Homo sapiens: one gene and its partners. The protein of the gene in region 1 purifies or fractionates together with the protein of each later gene. This does not show direct contact. Each region holds a gene or a part of one and is shown in the gene's direction. Other genes may lie near its edges.

Region 1 (3,653 bases):
AGTGGCACGATCTCGGCTCACTGCAACCTCCCCCTTCCTGGGTTCAAGCAATTCTCCTGCCTCAGCCTCCTGAGTAGCTGGGATTACAGGCACCCGCCACCACGCCCGGCTAATTTTTTTATTTTTAGTAGAGATGGGGATTCACCATGTTGGCCAGGCTGTTCTCAAACTCCTGATCTCCTGATCTACCCACCTTGGCCTCCCAAAGTGCTAGGATTACAGGCATGAGCTACCGCATCCAGCCACACTTATGACTTTTATAAAGAGAACAATCTCATGTTGGCCTCAAAGCAAGCAATGTCTGAAAGTGTCTTTGAGAGAAGCATGATTAGGTAGATGCAGGGAGTATATAGACATTTCTGTCTGTGCTTCTGCTGCCTCTTCCCTTCCCCTCGTTGCTCGTCGTGCCATATTCTGGCCAGGTCTTAACTGCCTCAAAAGGGGCCTATTCTTCTCACCAAATTTTGGGCTTAGCAAAATCTTCAGGTCACCTAGTCTAGCCCCTGATGGGAAGGCTGAATTCTGTTTATCCTATTTATCTACATTACTTGTCACACTACAGGCACTGAGGAAATGGTACAAACTTACTAGAAGTTCAGGAAATTGTACTTCATCTTGGTTTTAAGGAGTAATTAATCTCCTACCATTTGGTTCCATAAACGTGGGTGTGACAGAGGAGGGGAGGAAGAGCAGCTGTGAGCCTGCAAGTCCCTGTAGAAATCCTTTTCCCTCTGATTCTTATTCTCAGATCTTCTTACCTAGGGAATTTTTTTTTTCCTTTCCTGTCCCAGGGATCTTTCTTTCATCAAGGTGATAAACGTGGGCCAGCGATTTTTAGTCAACAGAGTCCAGGACTACATCCAGAGCAAGATAGTCTACTACCTCATGAATATCCACGTCCAGCCTCGCACCATTTACCTTTGCCGGCATGGAGAAAGCGAGTTCAATCTCTTGGGGAAGATTGGGGGTGACTCTGGCCTCTCGGTGCGGGGAAAGCAGGTGAGTAATTATTCAGCACACTGGATTTTCTAGGCTTAGAGTTAGAAGGGCATGACTGAGGTCATATATTTTATCTCCTTACTTAAATCCCATTTGGACGTAGGCTGTGGTTTCATAGTCAGGCAAGTGCTCAAGGTGTGTTCTTGCTCACTGCGTCTAGCTCTGTGTTAAAGAGTAGATAACTTTGACCCATTTCTGCTGTGATCATTCAACCATCAGATATTCATTGGGCACAACTTGTGTACTTAGCAATGTACAGGGTGCTCCAGTTAAAGTTCATTTCCTTTTGGGTTTATATTAACTATGTAGCACCTTATGGATTTTGACCATGGTTATGCACGTTGTCCCTTACAGACCAAGTTAGCAGGCTTTGTGTATGTGTGTGTTGAGTGTGTGTGTGTGTGTGTGTGTCTGTGTGTTTTCTTTTTACCCTTAATTTTCATTTTTAAACCCCAGTTTGCCCAAGCTCTAAGGAAATTTCTGGAGGAACAGGAAATAACAGACCTCAAAGTGTGGACAAGCCAGTTGAAGAGGACCATACAGACTGCTGAATCTCTCGGGGTGCCCTATGAGCAGTGGAAGATTCTGAATGAGATTGATGCTGTGAGTAGGAAGCTCTGAAGGCCCAGAAAAGCCAACAAGAGTTCAGGCAGGAACTCTCAGAAGTCACTATTTAGACAGTTTTATCTAGGAAACTACAACCAACAAGTAAAAACTCTGAGGAAGCTGACTCTATGGCCAGCCCGGGGGATCAGGGAGGACAATTGTACCCCTAATCAGGGGTTTCCTGCCTGATTCAGTACCTGTGCCAATCATGGGACCCAAACCAATTTTTGAGCCAGCCTTTCTGGCACCTGGGGAAAGTAGGGCTAACAAGGACTCATTTTGTTCCTTTGTATATTTGCCTCCTGGGAAAAATAAATAGCTAACAACCCACTTCTTTGCTTTCTGCTTAGATCATTTGGTCAGCTATTCAGGAAAAGTTTTTCCCAAAATTTCTCTTGGCTTTCTCTCTTCTTGAGTACAAAAGTAGACATTTCTTTCTTTTTTTTTTTTTGTGACACGGAGTCTCGCTCTGTGGCCCAGGCTGGAGTGCAGTGGCGTGATCCTGGCTCACTGCAACCTCTGCCTCCTGGGTTCAAGCAATTCTCTCCCTCAGCCTCCCGAGTAGCTGGGATTATAGGCACCTGCCACCACGCCTGGCTAATTTTTGTAGTTTTAGGGGAGATGGGGTTTCACCATCTTGGCCAGGCTGGTCTTGAACTCCTGACCTTGTGATCCACCCGCCTTGGCCACCCAAAGTGTTGGGATTACAGGCATGAGCCACCGTGCCCGGCCGACATTTCTTTTTCTTTCCTTCCTTCTACCCTTTTATTTTTCATGCAAGGTCTCCAGTCCCTTCAGTTTCCCTCCTTCTCTGCTTCCTGTTCCTTTTAGCCTCTTGACTTTCTTGACCTGTAAGTTCCCCCCAGTAGTAGGAGAATGTGGTAGCTTGAGCTAGAGAAGTTGCCTCTTTCCGGCAGTGGTCCTCACCCGGTGAGTCACAGACACTCTGTGACACTCTGGTCACAGGCAGCTGCAATACATGAAAGGACCCAGCACAGTGCCTGGCACGTACTAAGAAACTAGCATTCTTCAATGTCATCTTCCTTATTTGGGATGGGGCTGGTGTGGTACAGTCTATCTCTTCAAGCCAGCTTCAAGTGGCTTTTTGCAGGGTGTGTGTGAAGAGATGACCTATGCAGAGATTGAGAAACGGTACCCAGAAGAGTTTGCACTTCGAGATCAAGAGAAGTATCTGTATCGATATCCTGGTGGGGAGGTAAGACGCCCCTGTCATGTAAAGTGACTGCCTAGACCCTTGCTGAGTGTTTAACTTTAATTTGGGGGAAGGATTGAATGTGATTTGGAGGGTCTAGGCATCATTTATCTTCCTTCCCTTGGGTCATTTTGGTTTCATTCAGCTTAGACAATCGAATGCCTCATTAATTGTTAAGATTCCCAGGGATAAGGGTGACAAGGCATCCTCTGTTCAGTATGTTTTAGAATCAACACAATCATTTTTACTTCTTTTTTTCCTTGTACTCTCTCAATCCCACCCCCACATAAGTAAGTGGAGTCACCAAGTAAATATATGGGATAGGAATTATTTCCCTGTCATCTTGAGTGTTTTAGGCTATTTCCTTGTCTAAGTGGCTTCCATACTCTAGGGATGTGTGAGGCAAAAGTAAATAAAACTGAATGGCAGAGGTACAGGAAACCCCTAGGAGTCTCTTGTCTCACTGCCTGTATTAATCTGTGGGAAGAAAAAACACACACACACAGGTTGAACTCACACTTCCTCTTCTTAACCTGTAGTTTTCTTGGTCTAAATATTGCTTTTGAAAGATCTGAGTTTTCTCAAGAGATACCAGGGCTGGGGGCAGTTAGCAGGTGATGTAAACTCACTGAGCCTCCAGGAGGAAAGCCAGCTGAGGAAGAAGAAGTGGCCCTTAGTCTCCAAGGTCCAGCCACTGACTTGGCTGCCAGCTTGCACCTGGGCTCCTGCCAGCCTGCCCCATTTCCCTCCACAGTCATACCAGGACCTGGTGCAGCGGCTGGAGCCTGTCATCATGGAGCTGGAACGTCAGGGCAATGTCCTCGTCATCTCCCAC
Region 2 (3,653 bases), on another chromosome or scaffold:
TGAAACAGAGGTGAGTTGGATAGAGTAAGGTTAGTCTCTGGTAATGTGCCACTGCTTTGGCCACATTGCTTTAACATCAGTCATTGGAGGACTTAGATGTAAATTTATTAGGGGAGCATAAGATGGGTATGAAGGTTCTGAGAGACTGGTTTATTTTGGAGTTCTGATGTTCTTCTTTTGATAGATATTTATTCTTTAGATTTATGTTAACCACCTTGTTTCATTTGGTTTTAGGAAGAAGAAACAAAGCCCATTGAGCTCCCTGTCAAAGAGGAAGAACCCCCTGAAAAAACTGTTGATGTGTAATTATCCCTTTTTTATAATCTGAGTACAGAGCAGGCAGCTCTTTTCTTAATGTATTTAATGTTTAACTTTGTTTACCTCTTACATGTTCCCATTGGCCTTTTCCTTTCTGATTAGGTCATTTTTTTGTTTTTTAGAAGGGACTACTTCAAAGTACTTGGTCCCAGTGAAGTAAAGCAAATTGTCTCTGAGTTATGTAATAGGTAATGAGGACCAGGTGACTTCAAGACCAGACATAGTTTAATTCTCCTAGCCTTTGTTGTTCTTTTGTAGGGTCACCATAATAGATTATTCTGTTACTCTATAGAGAATCTGTACAATTCTGTATGCAGTGTAAAACTGTGTAAACTCTGTTAACTTTTTTTTTTTTGAGACAGGATCTCACTCTGTTGCCCAGACTGGAGTGCAGTGGCGTGATCTTGGCTCACCGTAACTTCTGCTTCCCAGGCTCAAGCAATTCTCCTGCCTCAGCCTCCCGAGTAGCTGGGATTATAGGTGTGTGCCACTACTGCCCGACTGATTTTTGTATTTTTAGTAGAGACAGGGTTTTACCATGTTGGCCAGGCTGGTTTTGAACTCCTGACCTCAAATGATCCGTCTGCCTTGGCGTCCCAAAGTGCTGGGATTACAGGTGTGAGCCACCGTGCCCGGCCCATTCTGTTAACTGTTCATAAGAGTTTTGCACTTTTCTGGAAAAGTGTAAAACTGAGGCCAGGCACGGTGGCACACACTTGTAATCCCAGCACTTTGGGAGGCCGAGGTGGGTGGATTACGAGGTCAGGAGTTCAAGACCAGCCTGGCCAAGATGGTGAAACCCTGTCTCTTCTAAAAATACAAAAATTAGTTGGGCGTGGTGGAGGGCACCTGTAATTCCAGCTACTTGGGAGGCTGAGGCAGGAGAATTGCTTGAACCTGGGAGGTGGAGGTTGCAGTGAGCCGAGACTGTGGCACTGCACTCCAGCCTGGGAGCCACAGCTGTCTCGGGAAAAAAAAAAAAAAAAGTGTGACACTCTATATAAAGGAGTTTTGTAAGGGAGGAGGGTGTTGGGTAGAGGTTATGTTTCTGAAGTAGCACTCTGTTCTCTCTTGCTTTCTGATTTACAGTGGAGGATGGGAGGACAAAGTGCTAGAATGGAAAGTAGATCTTGATTTGTTTAAACTGTTCCACAAGGGTGATCCTAAACATCTTTAATTTGGGGCTTTTTCCACAAATGTCTGGCCATTTTGTACTATAGTACATTAAGAGCCGTTGAGTCCTAAACTTTGAACATTTTTGTTCCTCATAGTTGTGTTAGTGCATTTAATTATAAAAGGCAGTGTATTTACAAGTAAAAAGTCAGTACATAGTGGAGTATATCAATTAAGAATTAAGTACTCTTTGTATCCATTCTCAGATCTGACTTTACTGAGGTTTTTAGAACAGTACATACTTTTGGAAGATTTTATATATGGGGTCTGTACATGTGTATATGTATGTATGTGTATATATAGATACACGTATACACACACTGTGCACACTTGATTTTTTTTCACATCTGGAAATTTTTTATATCATCATTTTCTTATGTAAGTGTTAGTTATATGCTAGGCATTGTTCTTAAGAGTTATATGCTAGGCATTGTTCTGAATGTTTTACATGTACTGTCATTTTATCCTCAGTAGACCCTGTAAAGTCAGGATAATTATCCTAGGAAGTGGTCTCTTTTTGTTTAGCTTATTATGGGAAATTACAAGTATATACAAAAGTTCGACTAGTGTAATAGACTCTCATCTACCTATCACCCAGATTTACTAGTTATCAACTTAGAACCTTGTTCTTTCTAGCATTTAATAGTATTGCATTCTATGGATAAACAGTAATTTATTTCACCAGTCTTCTGTTGATGGACATTTAGATTATTCATTAAAAAAAAATGTAGTTCTGCATGTCCTTTTCTAATTATTTATACTCACAAGTATACCCACAGGGTAAATTCCTAGCAGTGGATTTGCTGCATCACAGAGGATGTACATTTAACATCTTGATAGATTTTTGTCAAATATCCCTTTATTTATTTATTTTTGAGACAGGGACTCACTCCGTTGTCCAGGCTGGAGTGCAGTGGCACAATCTTGGCTCACTGCAACCTCCGTTTCCCGGCTCAAGCAGTCCTCCAGCTTCAGCCTCCTGAGTAGCTGGAACTACAGGCACGAGCCACTACACCCAGCTCTTTTTTTGTATTTTTTGTAGAGATGGGGTTTCGCCGTGTTTGCCAGGCTGGTCTCAAACTCTTGAGCTCAAAGCGATCCACCTGCCTTGGCCTCCCAAAGTGCTGGGATTACAGGTGTGAGCCAGTAATCACCTGCCTATCAAATACTACTTTCCAGCCTATCAAATACTACTTTCTAAAGCCATTTAGTTATCTTTCCATCATAAGATGTTTATAATTAGATATAGTGCCTTGAAAAAATGACTTTGTGAGATAGCTTTAAAATAGAAATGTTATGGGGATTTCTGGAACAAGAAAGAAGATCAAGTGAATACCATGATAATTGGCTTCTGTGGGTTAAAAAATAGAGGTTCGAAAGTTTGAAGTTCATTATTCATAGAATATTTAAAATGTGCATTCTGTTCAGGGGGCTTTAATTCTATTAATGAATTTTGAAACAAGGAAATTGAAGTGGGTGGGGTGATCGTTTTTGATTTTTAGAGGATAGTTGTGGTTAGACTGAAGTATGTACAAAAAGATTCTGGGTCTCTGTATTTCAGGGAATGTTGTTTATGTGATTGGGTAGGAGAGAAATTTCTCAGTGAAGAGTGGAAATTTCCCATGCATCCCAGAATTCGATGTTTATTTATTGCGCTTGAGTTTAGTTGCCTAAGGGAATTGTAATAGAATGGAAGGAAACTTCCCGTCTGGGGTTCCCTTTCTGCCATGATGTGCACTGCATTGACTGTGCTTCAGAATGGTAATGGGGAGGAAGTCATTACACTGGGGTTGATGGAGAGTACTACTTTCTTGATGGCATTGGATTTCAAGTAAAACATTAAACTTTAGCCTTTTGTGCCTAAATTATAAGACAAGGTTAGGGAAGGATGGCAAGGAAATGGGAAGCGTTTAGAAATTTCTTTAAACGTCAGAATAGCCAGGGCTAGTTTAGATTCCTTGACTATTTAAAAGGAGATCCCCTTCTTCATGTTTGGCCTGAAGTTCTCCAAAAATATACCTGTTTCTAGTTTGATTCCCAACCCCCAACCAGCTAAAGCGGTTACATATCGTAGGACTTCGTTATAGTCAGCAGGGGGCACCCATTGCTTGTCTTCAGTCCAGGGATTTCCAATAAAAGGGTGGAAGAGAGTAAGTTCTTAT
Region 3 (3,653 bases), on another chromosome or scaffold:
CAAACTTTGTTCTTTATTTATTTTTTCATTTTAATCTACATTTCCTGCTTTTATTATTACAAATTTTCAAAAATTAACACTAATTCCTTGGTATAAAATATCTACACTTTTTAAAAAAATACACAGGAATATGGGTACTATAGTAAATTCAAGTTTCTGTTTATTTTGATTTATGTGCTGTTTTTTTTTTTCCAAGTCCTGTAAGGAGCTGAATAAGTATTAAATTCTGGCATAGTAACAAAACAGAGGAGGAAATGATAACAAAAATAATATAGGGGAAAATAATAGAACACAAAGCAATAGCAAATGCTCATTTCAATAGCAGTGCTTTAGAGAAACTTCAGTTTTGTCTTTGTGAAAGTAAGAGAAGGGTTCAGAGATTAAACATTATTATTCTGTTTGGATTGTTCACTTCTTTTTTTTTAAACTTTAAGTTCTGGGATACCATGTGCAGAACATGCAGGTTTGTTACATAGGTATACACGTGCCATGGTGGTTTACTGCACCCAGGATTGTTCACTTCTTAGAGATCCTTTGCTGTGCTTTAACCTTTATTCCCATCTCCCTACTCCCTATCCATTTCAGCTTCTAAGTGTATCTCAGATGTAGTGGAGTTAGGTGTTAGAGTCAGACACACCAGAGTTTGAATACTAGCTCTGTTACTTTTTGTGTATTTGACAAAATTAATCTCTCTCAGCCTCTTTTTTTTATATATCTGTAAAGTAGGGATAAGAACCATTTCAAATGAATGCTCTGAAGATTAACTGGAATAATTGTGTGTTTGTGAATAAATATAAATGAAGCTGTTCTGAATGTTTTCCATACGTATATATGCCTCCATCCCCTCATTCCCAGTGCATGACCTTGGCATTAGATCAGACAGTAATCGTTTAACCAGCCTCTAGTCTCCAGTGAAGTTCTCATTGCCTTGGGAGTCATTTTTAAATGACTACATTACAATACATCTATACTTTCTAAAATGTAGATCTCACCATCTCTTCAGGATAAACTTTAAGCAACATTTTCTCTTTTAAAGAAGGCTTTTAATGGTCTGTCACAGTCTGCCTCTCCAGCCTGCTTTTCTGTTACTGTCTCCTTTGTTAGTTTTGTTAGTGCCAGACCCTTATTCCCTGACTGTCCTATCCTATTCCCCTTGCCCATCTACTGGACTTGTATTCAGCACTGAAAATCTGACTTATATTTTACTTCTCTTTGAGACATTCTCCTCTTCCCTCTTCCCTCCCCACAACCCTCAGAATAATCATGCCGTGGCTCGTAGAGGCTGTGTGCCATCTCTTTGGTCCATTTGTATCTGTATTCTTAGCACTTAGTATCAGGATTTGCCCGGAGGTGTTGAAGCTGGCAATCATCCTTCCATTCCAACAAGAATAAATATAATTTATCACATATATGTATGAAATAAATGTATTTAATATGTATAATAAATGTTGAAGGTTTTTAAAGAAGTGATGGAATTTGTAACTAATTCATGGAATTTATAACAGTTCAATTCATTATATGCTATTGAAGTAGCAGTCTCATTTTTAATCTCAGAAACTGTTTCTTTCATAATTCATGTTAAATTAAGAAGTCATTTGGGAATTTAAAAAGCATCTGGACTTTCCTCCCTGCCCCCCTTCCACAACTGTCTGTGAATAAATTGAAAGAGGAAAATAGTGCTTACATAATCTTAAACCTTTTCTTTTGACATGTCTTGGAATATTTAATTTCTATTATTGTGATAATACAAGTAAAACAAAATTATACTACAGGATTTATAGATGTTTACTTTTTTTGAGGAAAATCACTCAAAACAATAAGCTTTTAAACCCAAACTCAACAATCATTGCTTTTTGTTCTTAGTGATAGTGCTTGTGCTGATACAATATGATCAAAATATTTGGCCAGTATTAGGAAATGTCCTAGAGATGATTATAATAGTAAGAGCCAGTCTTAATTGGTAAGTGCCAGATATGGTGCTAAGCTCTTTAATTCTCATGACTACCTTAGGAGATAGGTACAGTTTTCTCCCCTTGCCCTTTCGTGTGTGTGTGTGTGTGTGTGTGTGTGTGTGTGTGTGTGAGAGAGAGAGAGAGAGAGGATCTTTCTCTGTTGCTCAGGCTGGAGTGCAGTGGCACAATCACAGTTCGCTATAGCCTCAACCTTCCTGGCTCAGGAGTAGCTGGGACCACAGGCGTATGCCACCACACTCTGCTAATTTTTAAATTTTTTGTAGAGATGGGGTCTCGCTATGTTGCTTTTGGTTGTTGCTTAAACATCTTGGGCACAAGCAACCGTCCTGTCTTGGCCTTCCAAAGTTCTGAGATTACAAGAACCACTGTGCCTGACCTGTCATCTCCATTTTTAGATGAGAAATTGAGACTTAGATCTTCAGGTCACTTTATTAGTAACTGGTGAAGCCAAGATTTGAGACTGATTCCAGAGTACAAGCTATTTCATGAGATAGTGAATACTGGTTAAGTTACCCTGTTGGCTTTTCTTCTAGTAGACAAGTACATTCCTTTATCTACCAGGATTATTTGATCCAATTCTACACTGAAATAGATGAAGATATTTGGGCTCAGATAAGTTACCTGCCCAGGTTCATAGATAGATCTCAGAGCTTGATCAGGAGCCTTAGCTTTCTTCTTCAGGTACTGATGCTTCTACTCTGCTGTGTTGCCATATTACCTCCTTTGTTGGAAATGATTTACTTTCTGAGTGTAGTGCTTTGAGGAATTTTAGTAAACATAGAATTCAAATTATTTAATTTTCACATATATTAAATTGATATGAAAAAAGATAAAAATCACAGCTTTAGTTTTTTTTTTTTTTTCTAAAATTAAAATTCTATGTTTCCCATTTGTCAAGGTAAGTCCAAATTAGGGGAATGTGCTTTTTGTGGAAAAATGGATTTTATTTTTTCTTTTGGACTACTGATATAAATCAAGTTGCTAGATTTCATTTAAAATATGTATATGCATTTTATTCATGTTCTTCAGATGTTTCATTGAAAATATTTTCCCATTAATTCTGATTTCTTGAGTTGTCCTAGGGATGGCTTTTGTTTTCAAGAAACATTTTAAAAATTCACTTTAATTAGAAAAAGTAAATTTCATAAGTTATTAGGATCTTTCTAGGCATTTATTAAATGAGTTAATATGTATGAAATTCTTAGCACCACTATCTGACAACATAGTTAACCTTCAGTAAAGATTGGCTGTTGTTTTTGCTGTGATAGTACTGATTTCGAGAAAGAAAAATTAACAGGAAATGCATATTAGGGATCAGAAGCAAATTGTTTTGATCAACTTTTTCTTGTGGTCTGCAGTCTGCTTTATTACCTGGAGCTCAGTAATAAGGCCAGCCAAGTTGTGTTGGTGATTCACCCATAAGAATTTAATGTGATCATCTTTTTTACATATTGGTCATGATCCTTGACAAGTTTAATTTACTAATTGGGATAATCAGTTGAAATTAGTTCTTTTTGAATCACTCATTGCTTAATGCGAAAGATACTACTGCTTAAAAATAGTAGTTTATTTTACTCTTATAAAGACGTATGTGAAATAAATCTTAAAGCTTCTATGTATTTAAAGGGCAAAAGATTTTCAGACCAGTGAGATTGGCAGCTCATTACCAGCTAAATTACA

What was found.
Region 2: the proteins of PFKFB2 (region 1) and SARNP purify together in Homo sapiens (affinity purification with mass spectrometry; one large-scale study listed by BioGRID and IntAct). This does not show direct contact.
Region 3: the proteins of PFKFB2 (region 1) and RAB3IP purify together in Homo sapiens (affinity purification with mass spectrometry, with the first as the bait; one large-scale study listed by BioGRID). This does not show direct contact.

The regions. Positions count from the first base shown.
Region 1 is NC_000001.11:207,066,708-207,070,360, forward strand, and holds part of PFKFB2 (6-phosphofructo-2-kinase/fructose-2,6-bisphosphatase 2), read left to right. Parts: intron 1-791; coding exon 792-999; intron 1,000-1,455; coding exon 1,456-1,602; intron 1,603-2,716; coding exon 2,717-2,821; intron 2,822-3,572; coding exon 3,573-3,653. UniProt on the Homo sapiens protein: Synthesis and degradation of fructose 2,6-bisphosphate.
Region 2 is NC_000012.12:55,797,211-55,800,863, reverse strand, and holds part of SARNP (SAP domain-containing ribonucleoprotein), read left to right. Parts: coding exon 1-10; intron 11-234; coding exon 235-302; intron 303-3,653. UniProt on the Homo sapiens protein: Binds both single-stranded and double-stranded DNA with higher affinity for the single-stranded form. Specifically binds to scaffold/matrix attachment region DNA. Also binds single-stranded RNA. Enhances RNA unwinding activity of DDX39A.
Region 3 is NC_000012.12:69,745,251-69,748,903, forward strand, and holds part of RAB3IP (rab-3A-interacting protein isoform alpha 1), read left to right. Parts: intron 1-3,653. UniProt on the Homo sapiens protein: Guanine nucleotide exchange factor (GEF) which may activate RAB8A and RAB8B. Promotes the exchange of GDP to GTP, converting inactive GDP-bound Rab proteins into their active GTP-bound form.